Homo sapiens: one gene and its partners. The protein of the gene in region 2 purifies or fractionates together with the protein of the main gene of each other region. This does not show direct contact. Each region holds a gene or a part of one and is shown on either strand. Other genes may lie near its edges.

What was found. The genes of interacting proteins can lie anywhere in the genome.
Region 1: the proteins of ACVR1 (region 2) and GRAMD1A purify together in Homo sapiens (affinity purification with mass spectrometry; 4 studies listed by BioGRID and IntAct, with this or other methods). This does not show direct contact.
Region 3: the proteins of ACVR1 (region 2) and TGFBRAP1 purify together in Homo sapiens (co-immunoprecipitation; 5 studies listed by BioGRID and IntAct, with this or other methods). This does not show direct contact.

What each region holds. Positions count from the first base shown.
Region 1 is NC_000019.10:35,010,323-35,017,322, reverse strand, and holds part of GRAMD1A (protein Aster-A), read right to left. Parts: coding exon 6,944-7,000; intron 5,850-6,943; coding exon 5,769-5,849; intron 4,068-5,768; coding exon 3,955-4,067; intron 3,783-3,954; coding exon 3,632-3,782; intron 3,135-3,631; coding exon 2,936-3,134; intron 1,500-2,935; coding exon 1,356-1,499; intron 1-1,355. UniProt on the Homo sapiens protein: Cholesterol transporter that mediates non-vesicular transport of cholesterol from the plasma membrane (PM) to the endoplasmic reticulum (ER).
Region 2 is NC_000002.12:157,735,937-157,740,455, forward strand, and holds the end of ACVR1 (activin receptor type-1 precursor), read right to left. Parts: intron 2,635-4,519; coding exon 2,504-2,634; intron 1,730-2,503; coding exon 1,595-1,729; 3' UTR 510-1,594; downstream 1-509. UniProt on the Homo sapiens protein: Bone morphogenetic protein (BMP) type I receptor that is involved in a wide variety of biological processes, including bone, heart, cartilage, nervous, and reproductive system development and regulation.
Region 3 is NC_000002.12:105,319,736-105,326,735, reverse strand, and holds part of TGFBRAP1 (transforming growth factor-beta receptor-associated protein 1), read left to right. Parts: intron 1-7,000. UniProt on the Homo sapiens protein: Plays a role in the TGF-beta/activin signaling pathway. It associates with inactive heteromeric TGF-beta and activin receptor complexes, mainly through the type II receptor, and is released upon activation of signaling.

The DNA of each region.
Region 1 (7,000 bases), on a different chromosome or scaffold from region 2:
GGCCATTCTTACATTACTATAAATACCTGAGGCTCAGTAACTTATAAAGAAAAGAGGTTTAATGGGTTCACAGTTCCACAGGCTGTATAGGAAGCATGATGCCGACATCTGCTCGGCTTCTGGGGAGGCCTCAGGAGCATTTTTTTTTTTAATGGAGTCTCTCTCTGTCACCCAGGCTGAGGTGCAGTGGCATGATCTTGGCTCACTGCAACCTCCACCTCCTGGGTTCAAGCAATTCTCTCACCTGAGCCTCCAGAGTAGCTGGGATTACGGGTGGGCAGCATCATGCTCAGCTAATTTTTTTTTTTATTTTTGTAAAGACTGAGTCTCATTATGTTGCCCAGGCTGGTCTCCAACTTCTGGGCTGACATGAACTTCCCACCTTGGCCCTCCTCCCACCTTTTTTTTTTTTTTTTTTGAGACAGAGTCTCGCTCTGTCGCCCAGGCTGGAGCGCAACGGCACGATCTTGGCTCACTGCAACCTCTGCTTCCCGAGTTCAAGTGATTCTCCTGCCTTAGCCTCCTGAGTAGCTGGGATTACAGGTGCTCGCCACCATGCCTGGCTAAAATATTTTTGTATTTTTAGTGGAGATGGGGTTTCACCATGTTGGCCAGGCTGGTCTCAAACTCCTGACCTCAGGTGATCCACCTGCCTCGGCCTCCCAAAGCGCTGGGATTATAAGCGTGAGCCACTGTGCCCAGCACCCCACCCCCCGCCCCTGTTTTTTTGAGACAGAGTTTGGCTGTGTCACCCAGGCTGGAGTGCAGTGTGATCTCAGCTCACTGCAACCTCCGCCTCCGAGGTTCAAGCAATTCTCCCACTTCAGCCTCCCAAGTAGCTGGGACTATAGGTGTGTGCCACCACACCTAGCTGATTTTTGTATTTTTAGTAGAGATGAGGTTTCACCATGTTGCCCTGGCTGGTCTCACACTCCTGACCTCTAGTGATCTGCCCACCTCGGCCTCCCAAAGTGCTGGGATTACAGGTGTGAACCACCGCACCAGCCCCGCCTCAGCCTCTTAACTTGTATTTATTAAACGCTTACTATATGGTATTGCTCTAGGAACTTTTCTAGTATGAACTCACTTAGTTCTCATGATAACCAATAAGCCAGGTACTATTATCATACCCCCATTATACAGAAGGAGAAACTGAGGCACAGAGCATCTCAGAACTCTGCCCAAGCCTACCCAGCTAGTAAGTGGCAGAGCTGCTTCTGGTCTGACAGACATTGCTTTTCACCACCTCGCCTTGCCCCACTGGCTAGCAGTGCCTTCCCCTGTCCTGGGCTACCCTTCCTCACCCCTCCCCTGCACCTGGGTAACCTCAGCCTCTCCTTCATGCGCCCGCTGACCTGTGAACTTGCACTGCTGTAGGAAGCCCTGGAGGAAGGGCGAGTCCGAGAAGAGCATCTGCTGGAGCCGCTCAGCGCCCACATGGAAGACAGAGTTGATGAGGAGGCGGCCGGAGAGGTCGGGAAGCAGGGCAGCCAAGTCCGCTGGAGACAGAGGAGAGCCGAGGATGATGACTGCCTCCACTCCTCCCTCCCTCTGCGGGCCACGCCTCCCCACTCCCAGGCCTTGTAGTGTGCATGGGCGGACCCCACCTCCTGGAGCACAGCTGGACACTGACACAGAGCCCTCCTGTGACTCAGGGATGGGTTGAGGGTGGGCACGTGCTCCAGGCCCAGACAGACAGCCACTGTGCTTGGTTCTGGGTGGAGAACACACCTAGGCCCTGAGATTTAAATCACAGGGATTCATTACCAGATAGCACGCCTCCTGGGAGCATCAACCTAGGGGCACAGCAATTGGTTCAGGGGTGAGTGGGTGGCCCAGGTCTATCCGATCAACCACAGTGATTGGTTCAGGGGCAGGCACACTCTCAAGTTGGCCCAATCAGAGCCAACCCTAGGGTGTCCGCTGTAGACACTAGGAAAAATAGGCTGCTCTCTCTCATTGGGCTGGTCTGGGGCAGGGCTGAGGCCATCTCTGCCCCATAAGAGACAAGAATAGAGGCTAGCTGAAAATTAGTGGAGAGAGAAAATGAATACAATAATGATAATAGAAATACTAATAGTCAATGCTTACTAACTGGCCCAAGTGCTTTAAATGTATGAAATCACTTAATTCTCTCCCTTTGTTCGTTTTAGAGACAGGGTCTCGCTCTGTTGCTCAGGCCGAAGTGCAGTGGTGCAATCATAGCTCACTGCAGCCTCCAACTCCTGGGCTCAAGCGATCCTCCTGCCTCAGCCTCCCCAGTAGCTGAGACTACATAGGGTGCATGACCCCATGCCTGGCTAATTTTTAAATTTTTTGTAAAGACAGGGGTCTCACTATGTTGCCCAGGCTTGTCTCAAACTCTTGGCCTCATGTGATCCTCTTGCCTTGGTCTGCCAAGTAGCTGGTACTATAGGTGTGCACCACCACACCTAGTTTTTTCTTTTTTTTCTTTTTTGTACAAAACGGGGTCTTGCTTTGCTGCCCAGGCTGTTCTCCAACTCTTGGCCTCTAGCAATCCTTCCTACCTTGGCCTCCCAAAGTGCTGGGATTACAGGTGTGAGCCATCACACCCAGCCTCATTTATAGTCTCTTAACAACAATCCTATGAAGTGGGTATTATCATTGTTAACCCCATTTTCAGAGGAGGAAAGCAAGCTCAGAGAAGTTACATAATTTGCCCACGTGACATGGTCAGGAAGTGGTGTGACCAGGATGTGAACCGCGGCAAGCTGCCTTCAGTCTGTGCTTGTGTTCACCCTGCCATGCTGCCTTCAAAACAGAGTAAAGACAGAGATTTCTAGCAACAGCGCCTGAACGCCATCCCGCCTGCCCCTGGATTCTCAGTGCTGCGGGCGAATCCATCCCCTCTTGCTTAAGACTGAGCGAGGCTTGCAAGTACCGGAGGCGAATGAATTGGGCCCGCCTGCCTCACCTTCCTCCCCAGTGGATGAAGAGGAGTTACTTGTGTCTGTCAATAGCTCCTCACTGGGCAGCAGATCCAAGGGGCCCAGGGTGGTGGGCCCGTCAGGCTGGGTGGGCTCTGTGCTCGGGGGTTCAGCCACCGGGGTCACTGTCTGGCTGGAGGAGGCGTCTGGCTGGCTGTCTACCTGCTCCTCCTTGTCCTCCTCTGCCTGTGGAGAAAGGCCCGATGCAGCCTTGGCCACCTCCATCCCAGCCCCAGGGCTCCCAAGTCCACACTGGCCACAAGGATTCCAGAGCCTGTGCAGACCCGGGGTGGTGTGTGCACCGAGGGCTCACGGCTGAGCTGCGAGCAGCCTGGGGCCACCCAGATGAGGGCCCCTCTCAGCCCCTGCCAGGCTTGTCTCAGATGCCTGAGCCATAAGCTTTCTTACCTGTCCTGTCCGTCTGTCTGTCTGCTGCTTCATCTATCCACCCATCTCCCATCCCTTCTGTCTCTCATCCTTTCTGTCTGTCCCCTCTCTTCCCTGTCTCTCTTTCCCTGTCACATGTCCGTCTTCCCCTCCCTGTCCTGTTCCTCCATCCAGGCCTCCCCTGTCCCCCTATCCATTCCCCTCCAAATCTGTCAGGCTGTTCTTCTCCCACTGCACCCCCAGCCCTCCTCTCTCTTCCTATCAGTATCCCACCCCTCTTCCAACCCACCGCTCACCCCATGGTCTGCGTCGCTGCTGGCTCGGGAAAGGTTGGGCGTGACATGGCCACGGCGCGAACCCACTGGGCTTGGCTCCTGGCTGCGGTCAGCTGCCCCCGAGGAGGTGATGTCGCTCAGGGCGATCACATCTCCCACTTCCTTGGGGGTCCTGTGGGAAAGGGGAGGAAGCGGGACTGCTGTGTCCTTGAGACCCCATACACCCTCCTGAATCCTCCAGACGTCATACAACCATCTCAGGCCCCCCAGCACTCCAGGAACTCTGCACGCCGACCGTCCTGTTCTCCCCCGAACCCTTCAACCTCCTTTGACCTCCAACTCACCCCAGACCGTTCAGCTGCAAGGGGGAGACATAGTCCTCATCCTCACTGGTGAGGCCCAGCTCTGAGCCGTAGCACTGATGCACCAGGTGCCAGAGCTCGCGGGGACTCAGCGTCTGGGGAGGCGGGACCTGGGGTTGGCCTCCATCTCACCCCAGCCAGAGCCCGGCCCGCCAGATTCCCCACCAGCCCTCGGCCTCCGCAGTTCCCCTGGCTTCCACAAGGAGGCAGCCACGATCTCCCGCACCAGACCTGGCCTCAGCAAGCGGGGAATCCCCTGCTACAGCCCCTCCAGGGCCTGCGCCCAGGACTCAAACTTCCTGCTTCCCAAGTCCCCACAATACTCTGGCCAGAGAATGTTCCCATTTTTTTTATATCTTTTTTTGTTTGTTTTTTGGAGATGGAGTCTGGCTCTGTCGCTCAGGCTGGAGTGCAGTGGTGTGATCTCAGCTCACTGCAACCTCTCCCTCCTGGGTTCAAGCGATTCTCCTACCTCAGCTTCCCAAGGAGCTGGGATTACAGGTGCGTGCTACCACGCCCAGCTAATTTTTGCAATTTTAGTAGAGACGGGGTTTCACCATGTTGGCCAGGCTGGTCTCGAACTCCTGACCTCGTGGGCACCACGATCCGCCCGTCTTCGTCTACCAAAGTGCTGGGATTACAGGCATGAGCCACCGTGCCCAGCCATGAATGTTCCCATCTTTACAGAGCATACGGAGTCCCAGGAAGGGGAAGTCATGTAGGGAAAGTCATGTGTTCAAGGTCACCAAGTGACTTGGTCAAGCCCTGCCAGACTCCAGGGCTGAGTCTCCCATGCCTATGCCATCGTGGCCCCCCGAATCTTTTCCCAGGTGTCCTCGGGAGCCTTGAGCTTTCAGCCACCCATGGCCAGAGTGGCTGAATGACAGTGATGACAGTTAACAGTAAGTGATGATAGCAGCAGACATTTGCCACCTGGTCAACTAGGTGCATTCTTCTAACCACTTTACAGATGTACTAACTCACTGTATCTTCAAAACCATCTGGAAAGTAGGTGCTAACCTCATCATCCTTTTAAGACAATGGTGCTGAGAAGTGCAAGGTGACATGCTGGGGTCCAGCCAGGAAGTAGCAGTGCTGAGATGTGACCCCAGGGGAGCTGGTCTACAGCCGGGGGGCAGAGGGGGTGGCGAGGGAGCTAACCGCTGGGCTACTCTGCTCATAAGAGCTGACATGACTGAGTACTTATTCTGGGCAAAATTCTGGGTGCTGTGAAGTGGGGATGGCCCCCATTTGACAGATGGGGTTCAATCACTTGCCCCAGGGGATGGGGCTGGAATCCCGGGGCTCTGCCCTGTCCTCCTTAGGGCCTGACTGTGCGCTGTCCCTCTCTCAGGATGCTGAATGGGACCCTCAGCACTCCTGCCTGCTCCAGGGACATCGGAGCCTCTGAGAAGGCAGCGCGTGAGTGCCGCTCAGCCGGAGGATGGGGCTGGGGCTCTCTGAGGTGCTGTGGACCAGCCATAGCCGGCATCCTGTGATGACCTCCCAGCCTCTATCCACACTCCCCCGCTGCCAGTGGAACCTGGATGTCCTTCAGGGTGAAAATCATTCCCAGCCCCAGGGAAGAATTACGACGGTTTACACCAATTCATGTCCCTTTGCCAGAGACTCAGCTTCGGGGTCAGGTGGGGCCCAGGGAGGAGCTGCAGGGGCACTGGGCCTGGTGCCCATGGAGAAGAGCCAGGGCTGCCTCCAGCTCCGCAAGTTCTGGGGTCCCTGGCTCCATGGTCCCCCTGGAAACCCCCCATCCCCACCCGGGCCTCACCCAGGCCCACCTTTTCAAGCAGTGCATTCTGCCAGAGGCGGAAGATGAGGAGGAAGCAGCGGTCACGGGCCCCAAAGGAAGTGAAGAAATGCTGTCAGGGAGAGAGAGAGAGAGAGGTGTGAGCAGGTTGGGGAGCGACCAGGACAGAGGTGGGGAAGCGCCACCCTCATCTGCGCTGACGCCACATCTTTGGCCCCATGAATCCACTAATTCACCCCTGCATTAGTTCCACAAAACGTCTGTCCTGCGCCCGGCCCTGCCCTGGACAATTCCAGAATCACTGGGATGGGGAGACGACCCCTGGCCCTGTCCTTGGAGCTCCCAGTCCAAGGAGGGGACAGATGCATCTCTAGACAGGGTCAGCCCAGAGGGGCTGGGATGTGATGGGGGGAGCCCAGGGAACTTGCCCAGCCTCCTTTGCCACTAAGAATGGTCAGTTGATCCTTTTTTTTTTTTTTTTTTTGAGACAGGGTCTGGCTTTGTCACCCAGGCTGGAGTGCAGTGGCATGATCACGGCTCACTGCAGCCTCAACCTCCTGGGCTCAAGCCATCCTCCTGTCTCAGCCTCCTGAGTGAGTAGCTGGGACTACAGGTGCGTGCCACCACACCTGGTTAATTTTTTGCTTTTTAAGAGACAGGGTCTCACTATGTTGCCCAGGCTAGCCTCAACCTCCTGGGCTCAAGCAATCTTCCTGCCTCAGCCTCCCCAAAATGCTAGGGTTACAGGCATGAGCCACTACACCTGGCCAGATCCACTTTTAACCAACAAAACACAAAGAGAAGTCTGCTGGGAAGTGTCCCCCACACCTGTCCCCCTTCTTGTTGGACCGCTGGTGAGAAAGCCATCTTGCAACCAACGGACATGAGGCCACAATGACAGGGACAGGACACAACATCGGGGAGACTTACGAAGGGAGGGGCGGCTGAGGTGCCACATACATGGAAGAGTTTTACTATTTCTGCTGTTCCTGAGCAGCTGTGTGAGGTAACAGGTTGCAGGGAAAGAGAGGAGAGGCTGGTGCGGGGATCAGGTCAGGGGTGATGGGCGCCTGGGCCGGGAGAACAGAGAGAAGGGGACAGCTCGGAGAGAACTCAGGGTGCAGAACAAATGGGGCTTTGCATGTTTGGGGGAGGCGGCCTGCTGAGCGGGGGACCGCGTGGTCCCGTCACCGGGTCCTCCGTCACCTTCTCGCTCTCCGTGCAGATCTGGATGGCGTTGGGGATCAGCTTGGCCGTCTTTTC
Region 2 (4,519 bases):
AACTTACCTCTGGAAGACATTCCGGCATGTTCACACCTCTTCTCTTATTGGGCTACTGTTAACTCTACCTTTTAATCTTGTGTACAAGCAGTGAAAAAACCGAGAACGGACTCTCCCAAGCAGCAAGGGCGGATGCATAAGACCACTTTACACTCACGTGGAACCTTTCACTCAACAAAATGCTTTAACATCCTCCTTCCCGTTTACACTCACAACACCCCCCTGTGAGAAAGGCAGGTCAGAGAGATTTGTTACCCTCACCTTACAGCTGGAGAAACTGACTGAAAAAAAAACACAAAAAAACAAAAAAATCACAGCCAAAGGAAGAAACAAATTTTCTTATACCAAATTCAAGCTGTAAGACATCCTTATGATGTCTTACATAAGTTCATGAGTAGATTTAAAAAGCAAATTCAATTTACAAATTAGTTTTGTGCTTCTATTGCTCCCATAAGAAAATGCATAATGTTACACAGATCTTTTTTATATTTTGAAAAACAATTTCACTGTTTGACTTGAAAACAGTTTATTTAATTTATACAAATAACTACTAAATACAAAAAGTAGATTAAAACAAAATAGTTATTTTTTTCTGGCAGAGTTTAAATGCACGTAATGGATAATTCTGAAGAAAATGCATTTTCCCCGTAGCGTTCAGGACTAAAATTCTACTGAAATCTTTGCTTCTAAATCAGTAATATATTCGGTGGTGTCACGTGGGTAATGGCTAAATACGTTCTGCATATGAACTGAAAAAAAGTTACAGTCTACACACATACAAATGTGAAGCACTTAAAATGTGATTTTAACTGATAATAAAAGAAAATGTCCATTTTAGAGTATAGTGTTAAAAACATTTCTGTAATAAAATCATAAGACCACATAAAAATAAGCTTTAACATATGCACAAAGCAGTTTTGTAAAAACTACTAAGTGCACAAGTAATAAATAATTTGCAAAGTTGTGTATAAACAATTCCTAATGTTCGGCATCATTGTAAACATCAGCACATGTGTAAAATGCAGCAAAGTCTGACATTACATTTTGTTTTGCCAAATTGAATTCCTATTATCCAAAGACAGACCAGTGGAGTACGCAGCCAACATTTTGGCAAGTTGGGTCTTTAAAATTAAGAGTAACAGTGCAAGTAAGGAATGCAAAGAATTCCTAGTGCAATAAAGAAGAGAAGCACAGGCAATATTGCTGATTAAAAATTCACCACCTCCTTGAGTTTCCCGTGGGGAGTGTCTAGGAGACTTGTGAAAGCTATGCAAAGCCACTGACTTAATGCCCAGATCTCTTTTAGGATTTCTCTGTGTTCCTCCAGTCCCTACCTTTGCAACAGTGTCTGTCCAACATTAGTCTCTGCAGTGTGAACAGTTCGTGAAATGCCCAGTTCACAGTCATCGAGCGAGGTTAGGGTGGTTTTGATGTCTCCCCAACACATGGCTGGGTACGACGTCTGCCTTGTCAAAGCAGCCATTTGGGGAGGGAGACAGATGGATTCCATTCTGACAACCAGTCAGGCCAGCATTAGGTCCCAGCTGGACAATGACAACAACGTCAAATCTTCCTTCTTGACACTATGAAAATGTCAACAGTCAGTTTTCAATTTGTCGAGGGAATTATCAATTTTGGTCAAAGTCTTTTTGATACGCAGTGCTGTGAGTCTTGCGGATGGATTTTGATACCAGCATTCTTTCATTAGCTTGGCCAGAGAGGTTAATGTCTGAGGAGAGAAAGAACAAACACCACAATGACAAACTGGCTTTTTAATGGCCCTGGAAGCTGGGCTGATATCATGTCTACTATTCTGAAGAACTCGCAGGTCTTGTGAAATTAGAGTTATGTTACTGTCATCTTCTTCAAGCAAATATTCAACCTTTAACCACTGATAAAGAGGCCATTCTTAGAATTTCATGAACTCTGTCCTTTGGACTCTTAATGCTACCAATTTATTAGGTAAACGACATAGGCCAGATTGGACCCCTTAATGATTTTATGGGTGCCAAAAGCAGCAATACTAACCTAGAGATAATCCTGAAATTTCCAAATAGGGTCATTTCTCATTGTTTTATACCTGCTACTACTTATGAGTAGCAATACAGGATCTTCAGCATCCAGCAGCTTGTGTTTGGGATTTCAGATATACAGAGATGGAAAGGAGGTTAAAAGCTTCACTTAAAGTCTCTTGGTTTATACATGCAGTCTTAGGGCTAATAGCAGTAGTCATGAGTCTCCCGATTCCTGAAGCTGCATATTCACAGAAATTCTTACAAATATTGTCATTCACTAGCAACCCCTATGAGATATGGCTTCTTCAAGAATGGAGTATTTTTCTGAACTTACTCTTCTAGATCTAAACCCTTCTATATAAAATAGGAAGAGAAAACAACAGATCCACGGGACAGATCACTCAGATGCAATACCAGTTGAAACTCAAAGGGAAACAAATAGCAAACAATGGAAAAGAGCTCTAAAACTGAGAAACTGGCATTCTTACCGGGTCTGAGAACCATCTGTTGGGTATGTTTGGCCTTTGTTGATCCACACAGACTACCTTCCTCATATCTTCAAAACTTGGGTCATTGGGAACCACATCGTAGAACGGTGGCTTGTAATCCTCCACTATACCTGCACACAAGGACAAGAATTGTGTTCGGTTAGCAAGAGAGTACAGGTTGCCCCAAGGTTTCATTGATGGGTGTCACAGGTTATAATGTGACAGAAGAAAATACTAATCACCTTCCTCATACCTCAGGGCAGTCCTGGAAGCTAGAGGTAGGTCCTAAAACAGGTGGGAGAAAAAGGCAATAAATACACACCCTGCATGGTATTGGAAGAAGGATAATTGTTAGAAGGAAATACGTGAAAACTTCTCATGTAATCATAACTATTAGCAAAATTCTCCAACAGTGTATATTAACAGCTCTGTAACGCCCAACAGGGCACTGGAGACATAGAACAAAAATTCCTTTGGTGATAAAAACCACCCAAGCTACCTATGGAAAGTACCTGAATCTAGTGGTTTCAAACCATAAATAGAAATAAAAAGTTGTCCACAAACTAGAGCTAGGGAGTAATAAACCAAGACCATCATCAAAATACCCCTTTCTTTGTTAGAAAAGTATTTTGTTAAGAAAAACATTGCTATAAATTAATCTCTTCCATTAGGAGGGATGCAAATAATATCATAGGAAATACTCATTTCCTCATTCATTCATTCTACATGTACTGAGTACCCTCTAACTACAGGCACAGCTGTCTGACTGATGGCTCTATTATTTACTATCATATTGAAGGCACAAAATAAAATGTAAAGAGGATAGCCATGTGGGAAGGCAGAGGAAAAGAAGGATAAATAATGAACTCTTCCTCTGCCCAAAAGCAAATATGAACAGTAGCTAATACCAGCTTCTGCCCCTGCATGATTTCCAATGGCCTGGAAACTTTTTCTTTTCCAGCAGAATTATATCAACTCCTTAAACAGAAAAATTTTTAACTTCATCATTTGGAATTAGAAAATGGATTCTTCCCCTTCATAGAAATAAAACCAAGACATCTATTATTTCCTTTCCCTCAACAAAGGGTTCAAACAATGAGGTAATAACTTGGTTTACTGCTCTCTTTTCTTCCTCCAGGCGACTTTCTTCTATTCCTAAATACCTAAGAAGTTGTTGGAGGCGACAGAAGGAGTGTGAGGAAAGTTGTAATTCGGTTGTTCTAGTTCCTACAAGCCACCTGAAAAGCTTCAATTCCCTTTTCATTTATCACAGAAATTACTCAACAGTGGGAATCCATCCTTACAAATTCCATACAAATACAAACCATTTATGCAAAAGATTAGATATAAGGAGCATCTTTTCAAGAAATGCTACATATCTTTTTAAAACTTCACAAATTTGGCTAAATAAAGGTTTATATTTGAGATGGAAACAAGTCTAAATTATATTTTTTAAAAATCTAGGCTGGGTGTGGTCGTTCACGCCTGTAATCTCAGCACTTTGGGAGGTCGTGGTGGGTGGACCACTTGAGGTCAGTGTTCGAGACAAGCCTGGGCAACATGGCAAGACCCTGTCTCTACTAAAAATACAAAAATTAGCCGGGTGTGTTGGCGCGTGCCTGTAGTTCCAGCTAACTCAGGAGGCTGAGGCACAAGATTTGCTTGAACCCGGGAGGTGGATGTTGCAATGAGCCAAGATCAGACCACTGCACTCCAGCCTGGGTGACAGAGTGAGATTCTGTCTCAAAAAAAAAAAAAAACTAGTTAATTCCAAATAACTTACCCACATTGTGTAACTGCATTTGAAATGCATATCAGTCAGTGGATTAAAACCTTTCCTGGCAAATCATAAACATCATATTGGGTATAAACTGCTACTCTCAGAAATCTTGGAACACCTCATCTTAGAGGCCCTTCTTCTCCTGTAAGGATCCCAGGAAACATTCAAACAAAAATCTTTTAATTATTTTCAGTACTAACAGACACCATCTAAAATACAGCTGAACATGGACCTAG
Region 3 (7,000 bases), about 52 Mb from region 2:
TTTTTTTTTCTTTTTTTGAGACAGGGTCTCACCCTGTCACCCAGGCTACAGTACAGTGTCGTGTTCTCGGCTCACTGCAACCTCCATCTTCCAGGCTCAAGTGATCCTTCCACTTTAGCCTCCCAAGTAGTTGGGGCTATAGGCACATGCCACCATGCCCGGCTAATTTTTGTATTCTTCTATAGAGACAGAGTTTCACCATGTTGCCCAGGTTGGTTTTGAACTCCTAAGCTCAAGCAATCCATCTGCCTCGGCCTCCCGAAGTGCTGGGATTATAGGCATGAGCCACTGCTCCTGGCCAGTACTCGATAATTTTTTGTGGCTGTTTGAAGGTTCAGTATTGAGGAAGATGTTATGAAGTAAATGCCATATTTCTATTCTGCTCTTCTTCTACCTCCCACTTCTCTTCCTAAACCCTTTTAATTCTAACTGCTGATGGTACTCTTATAGGATGTATATTATATATATGTACATACACACACACATACACCCTTATGCATATGTATGTATACACACACCATATATAGTATGTGTATATATGTGTGTGTATATAAATATATGTTTATATGTATTTAAATAATTTTGATTAGTATTGCCCAGTAAAAAGGATACCAACTATGAATAGTTACATATATTAAATATACATCATGATAATATTAAGATGACAAGTTAGATATTAGACCTTAACTGTCTTTTTTTAATCCTCTTTTTTTAGATACTCTTGCAGATTATCAGAGCAGGTTCATTGCACTATAACTAATCTTGCTGTCTCTGTTGCATGAGTGCAAAAGATAACATAAAATGGTTGTCAAGCAGTATCTTCATTTTCAAAGGGGGGAAAAGTTGACTTTTGTACAAGCCAGTAAATTTATTGTTGATTCCTGACAAATTTCAAGATTGAGTCATTCAACAGATGGCTGTGGGACTTAGAGAAGAACACGGGACCAGCATGGGGTGCAGCTCAGGAAAAGCAGTTGCTGTCACATAAATGTGTATCCTGTTTTGGTAGATTACTATGTTAGTAGAGAACTGTGTCAACATACTATTCTGTGTCTGAATTTCAGCAAGCAGATAGAGCCACAGGATTCCTCTTCTAGACTCACGGTGGGGAAGCAATAGCAAAGACTCCTCAGGAACTGCAGCAGCATGCCACTCTAAGTACCATAGTGGCCTCCTGCTGAGAGTTGTTGCTTTGTTCAGAACTGAATTCTAGGAGAGGATCTGAAATCATACTTGTTCCCCTCAATCAATAAGAATATGGCCTTGGAGTCACGAACAAAAACTAGGGTCAAAGCCCTGTTTCATCACCTTGTAGCCAGGTAACCTTGAGCAAGCCACCTAAGATCTCTGTATCTCCATAATAATGTCCACCTCTCAGCGTCAAGGTAAGAACGAAAGGATAATGCTATATCGAGTGTGCAGTATCCCACCAAACCCAGTTTTGGGGCTCTCCTGAGGGGGCAGTCAGGGTGTCAGCCAGGGCTGCAGCCTATGGGTGCCATCCATCATCCAGGCTTGGGGCAGCATTGGCCTTGGGAGCCAGTGTGGCATCTGATTAAGGATGTGTGCTTTGGAGCTGACTACCTGGGTTGGAATCCCAGCTCTCTACTTACCAGCATGACTCTTCCACCTTTCAAGACCTCCATTCCCTTCCTCTTCATCCAGAAGTAGCTGGAGAATGGTATAGGAGAAGCACACAGCCCAGTCCAAATTTCTGTTTTATAGAGAACACAGGCCCAGACAAAGCCTCTTAGTGAGTTGCCTAAGATCATCAGGAAGTGACCAAGCAACAAGCAGAGCTCAGGATTCCCAGATTAATGTCGGGAATGTCTGCTATGCAGCGTGCCCACATTTACCACAGTTCACTGCCGGGGTGGCCCAGTTTCGCTCTGGGGCCTTGATCCTTATTACTGAGGGGCTGTGCTCCTTCCCAGCCTGAGTGTCCACCCTCAGAGTCCCCCACTTAACTGCTTCTCCCAAAGCTCATGGTATATCCAATTCTGAACACAGCAGGAGTCAGCTCACATTCACCCCAACCCAATCTCAGCCCCTCTGTCAGGGGAAAGACTCCAAATGAGTAAAACTCCCAAACTCTCCTCTGAAATGCATTTTCAGAAGGAAAAAAAAACTTTTAACTTATGGGTATTATTCATGCTTGTAATTTTAAGCGAGGACACTTGGCTGGAGAAAAATCACCTCTAAAAGTGGCTCAATAAAAAAGGCTCCAGTAGCCCAGAGTGTGCTAGCGCAGTCCTGGGCTGGACTGATGGGTATTGGTTCATGCTTGTCCTTTTTAGTCACTGACACAGTCTTATGACTGTTTCCTTTCCTGCTAGAAAAGGAGATTCCCAGGTTTCTTTTCTATTTCTTGATCACTCTAAGGTGAGATAATTACCCAATATACCACGATTACATTTTCATTTTAAAATTTGAAGTAATTTTGGACTTACCTAAGAGTTGCAAAATAGTGCAGAATTCATGAATACACTTTACCCAGCTTCCTCTTTTGTTAACGTCTTGTATGGCTGTAGTATAATGATCAAAATGAATCAATTAGTGCTAGTATACCACTATAAAGTGCACACAGTATTTGAATTTCACCCGTTTTTCTGCTTAATGTCTTTTTTCTGTTCCAGGATCCTTTTTCTGATCCAGTTTCCCCACTTTGCATTTAATTGTCACTTATTCTTGGCTTCTAATCTGTGACAGTTCCTCAGCCTTTCCTCTTTTTTCGTGACCTTAACACACTTGAAAGGGTGTGAGAGATTTTGTAGACCATCCCTCAGTTTGGATTTATCTAAACTCCTCCAATTCCCATGGGGGATTCGAGATGCTCTCTGACAATCACCTTCACAATCTATAGAAACAACACATTTAAGAAAACCACATCAGTATCTCAAGACTTTAAGTCAACCCGTAAACCTACCAAAATGCATTTTTCAGATGGGACTTCAGTGATTGTCAGAGAGCCTATCAAACCCCCCATGGGAATTGGAGGTGTTTGGCAGTTTGTTTTCTAGTAGGGACTTTTGTTGACATCTCATTTCACTCATTTAGCACAAACACTGCATCTGAAGGTAGCTTGCAGTGGGAGAATATTGCTGGCAAGGTTTGCCTTTTCTCACCCAATATAGAATTTTGAGGCTGTGATTTGGCTCTTCATTCAGTCAGGAATGCAGCATGGGAAATAGAGGTTTTCAAGCCTTCACTCCCTGCTGCCTGCAAAAAAAAGTGTCCAGTCATACCTGCCTGTCCTGCTCAATACCCACGATATGATGGTCAGGAGAGGAAGAATGGGCATGAGGTTGGTGCCTGTGCCAAAGGGAGATAGGAAGGTCTGAGTTTGCACTGAGTCCCAAGGGGTCGCAGAGATAGAGGCTGAGCAGCAGGTCCCTTGGCAGCTGCCCACGCTGTTTCTGTTTCAGGAAGCTGACAAAGCCAGAGGTGGGTGTCAGCACATCCCCCCGCCCCCTCTACTGAAGTCACCACCTGACTTTTCCAGGCTCTCCCTCCTCATCCAGGCGTCACAAGAGCCACCATCACTGGGACCACAAGAAAACTGGCCTCCAATGCATGCTTCTGAGTCTTTCTCTCTTAAACTTCTCAGGACCAGCCTCAAAAAACATGGGGAATAAGGCAAGGTGTCCCACTGTGTTGCATACCACCCTTTTCCTTCACCTTCCTCCTCACCACCATGGTTTGCTTTTGGCTGAGTCCTCGGTGATTTAGCTTTCTCTCCTAATTATATGGCACCAGCATCCTGACTGGTTGATTGGGAGCTGTGAACGGCTGAAGTGTGCCAAGCTCTGTCTGCCCCCCATCCGTCTCAAAGGCTGTTAGGATCTATGGCAACTTTTGTCAGTTCACTTATAGGTTTGGTTTTTAGAGCTAATATATGATATACAGTCATGCATCAGTTAATGACTAGGTTATGGTCTGAGAAATCTCCCATGGGGCAATTTTGTCATCATATGAACATCATAGAGTGAATTACACAAACCTGGATGGTACAGTGTATTATACACCTGTATAGCTTCATACCCTAAGCTATATGGGTATGGCCTATTGTTCCTAGGGTGCAAACCTATACAGCATGCTACTGTCCTGAATCTCTAAGCACAAGAGAATCTTGTAACACCAAAGTATGTGTGTATCTGAACACATCTAAACACAGAAAAGGGATAGTAGAAATACTGTATAAAATACTAAAAAAAGGGTCCACCTGTATGGGGCACTTACTGTGAATGGAGCTCGCAGGACTGGAAGTTTCTCTGGGTGAGTCAGTGAGTAAGTGGCAAGTGAAAGTGAAGGCCTAAAACATTACTGTACAGTACCATAGACTTTGTAAATATTGTACACTTAGGCTACACTAAATTTATTCTAAAAATACTTCTCTTCAGTAATAAATGAGCTTACTGTAACTTTTTGACTTTATAAACTTCTTTAAAAGTTTTTCACTCTTTGTAATAACATGTAGCTGAAAACATGTTGTATAGCTGTACAAAAATATTTTCTTTATATGCTTATTCTATAAGTTTTTTCTTTCTTTTTTTTTCTTTAAACTTTTTGGTTAAAAATGAAGACACAAACACACACACATTAGCCTTGGCCTGCACAGGGTCAGGATCATCCTTATCCCTGTCATCCACCTCCACATCTTGTCCCACTGGAAGGTCTTCGGGGGCAGTAACATGTGTGGAGCTGTTGTCTGTGATAACAATTTCTTCTTCTGGAGTCCTCCTGAAGGACTGTTTTACAATTAACTTATTTTTTCCTGCATAAGTAGGTGTACGCTCTAAAATAATGATAAAAAGTGTAGTGGAGTAAATACATAAACCAGTAACATAGTCATTTATTATTATATCAAGTACTACATACTGTATGTAATTGAATGTGCTAGACTTTTCAACGACTGGCACTGCAGTAGGTTAGTGTACGCCAGCAACACCACACATGAGTGATGCATTTTGCTACAATGTTCCAACAGTTAGATTGTCACTAGGTGATAGGAATTGTTCAACTCCATTATAACCTTATGGGACCACTGTTGTAGATGCTGTCTGTTGTTAATGGAAATGTCATTATACAGCACGCCACTGTGTTCAGTTTTCCCCTGTGATGGACATTGCTATCTGTCTATGGCTTCATGGTCTTAGTAGATATGTTTATCCAGGTTAATTGAGAAACTGCTTCTCAGAGAAACATTTTTTTTTCTATAAAAGTTCTATATTAAAATGGCAAAATAGAAACTTGAAAAACATCATTGTAGGCCAGGCATGGTGGCTCACACCTGTAATCCCAGCACTTTGGAAGGCCGAGGTGGGCAGATCACCTGAGGTCAGGAGTTCGAGACCAGCCTGGCCAACACAGTGAAACCCCATCTTTACTAAAAATACAAAAAATTAGCCAGGCATGATGGCGGCTGCCTGTAATCACAGCTACTCAGGAGGCTGAGACAGGAGAAGCACTTGAACCTGGGAGGCAGAGGTTGCAGTGAGCCGAGACCGTGCCACTGCACTGCAGCCTGGGCAACAAAGCAAGAGACTCCATCTCAAAAAAAAAAAAAATAAATAAATAAATAAGTCATTGTATTTATACAAAAACTGTAAATTGTAGGAAGATGCAAAGAAAGAAAGATACTCACGCCTAAAGCCAGGATCCCTGCCATCAGCCAGTCAGAGGAAGTCCAGTGTGTGGGAATCTGTGCCGTCCCCCAGAGCCCATTCTGAGGCTGCCCTTGTCCACCAGACGTTGCTACTTTTCATATGGACTAGCGACAGATGAGAAGGAGGCAGTGTGTTTTCCTTTAGGGATTATTACGTTGTTAAATTCGATCCCACCACTGTAGTTAATGGTAACTATTTTCTGACTCATAGTGTTAATCCTTTGGAAAGGTATCTAGAGAGTAGTGTTTACTGAAATCCCTTTTGACAACTGCTTGGTTTGTGGAGTGCCTTGGACACTTACAGGCTCTTTGGAACTCAGCAGCAATTCCGAACTGATTGTAGCTTATACAATAAGAGACTGATATTATGGAACAATAAGAATAGGTTAATAGCTATAATTTTTCTTACTAAATAAAGGAGGAAAGGTTGGCTGAGGTTAAAATTTTAAGGGCTGTGCTTCTTAAGCTGAGTCTGGAGTTTATCTTTTGGGCAGGGAACTACCTTCTGGTATGTTATAAGGAGGATAATGACCTAGTGTTTCAGGTGTGTGGCCCACATTCCTGCCTCCTTTCTGCATTGCCTTCAGATCTGACCTGGCTTTGGTCCAAATGTTAGAATGACCACTTGATCTCTATTCATTTTTGATGGACTATCATAAAGAAAAAAAAAAAACTTCTTGCTGTAAAATGAGAAAATAACAAATCTTACTTGAGGTAGTGTGTCCTTTTTAAAATGCAGATACAGAATTAATTTTTAGCTTATTCATAGGACAGTGCCTTCTATTATAGGGCTGAGTTTTTGCGGTTCCTCCCCCAGGGTGATGAAGTTCTGGTGCACATATAGCTGCATAGGTTTCTGAAGAGTCTGTTTCATTTATAAGCTGTGAAGTAATTAGAAAATGTGAGGGTTTTTTGCAGACACGTAGGACACCAGGCCAAGCTTAAAGTTGGCTCTCAGGTGGACATTATTTGGTAGAGCAGATAACAAAGTGTCATTCTTTGATTCAAGAATAATTACTGGTAAAGAGCCCATTTTAATAAATGCCAGTTTGTCATAGCATTCTTTTTGGCAGAATATATTTATCTCTGTACCAGATTAGGAGTTTCCTATTGTGTGTGTGTGTGTATGTATGTGTGTATATAACATGTATGTATGTATGTATATAACAAATATATATATTTCAATATATAACAAATATATATTTCACTATATAACAAATATATACACACATACATATATGTATATATGCATTAAACACATATATACCTATATATGTTAAACATATATATTAAAATCTTATATATGTATTATGCTAATATTTATATAGTTAATGT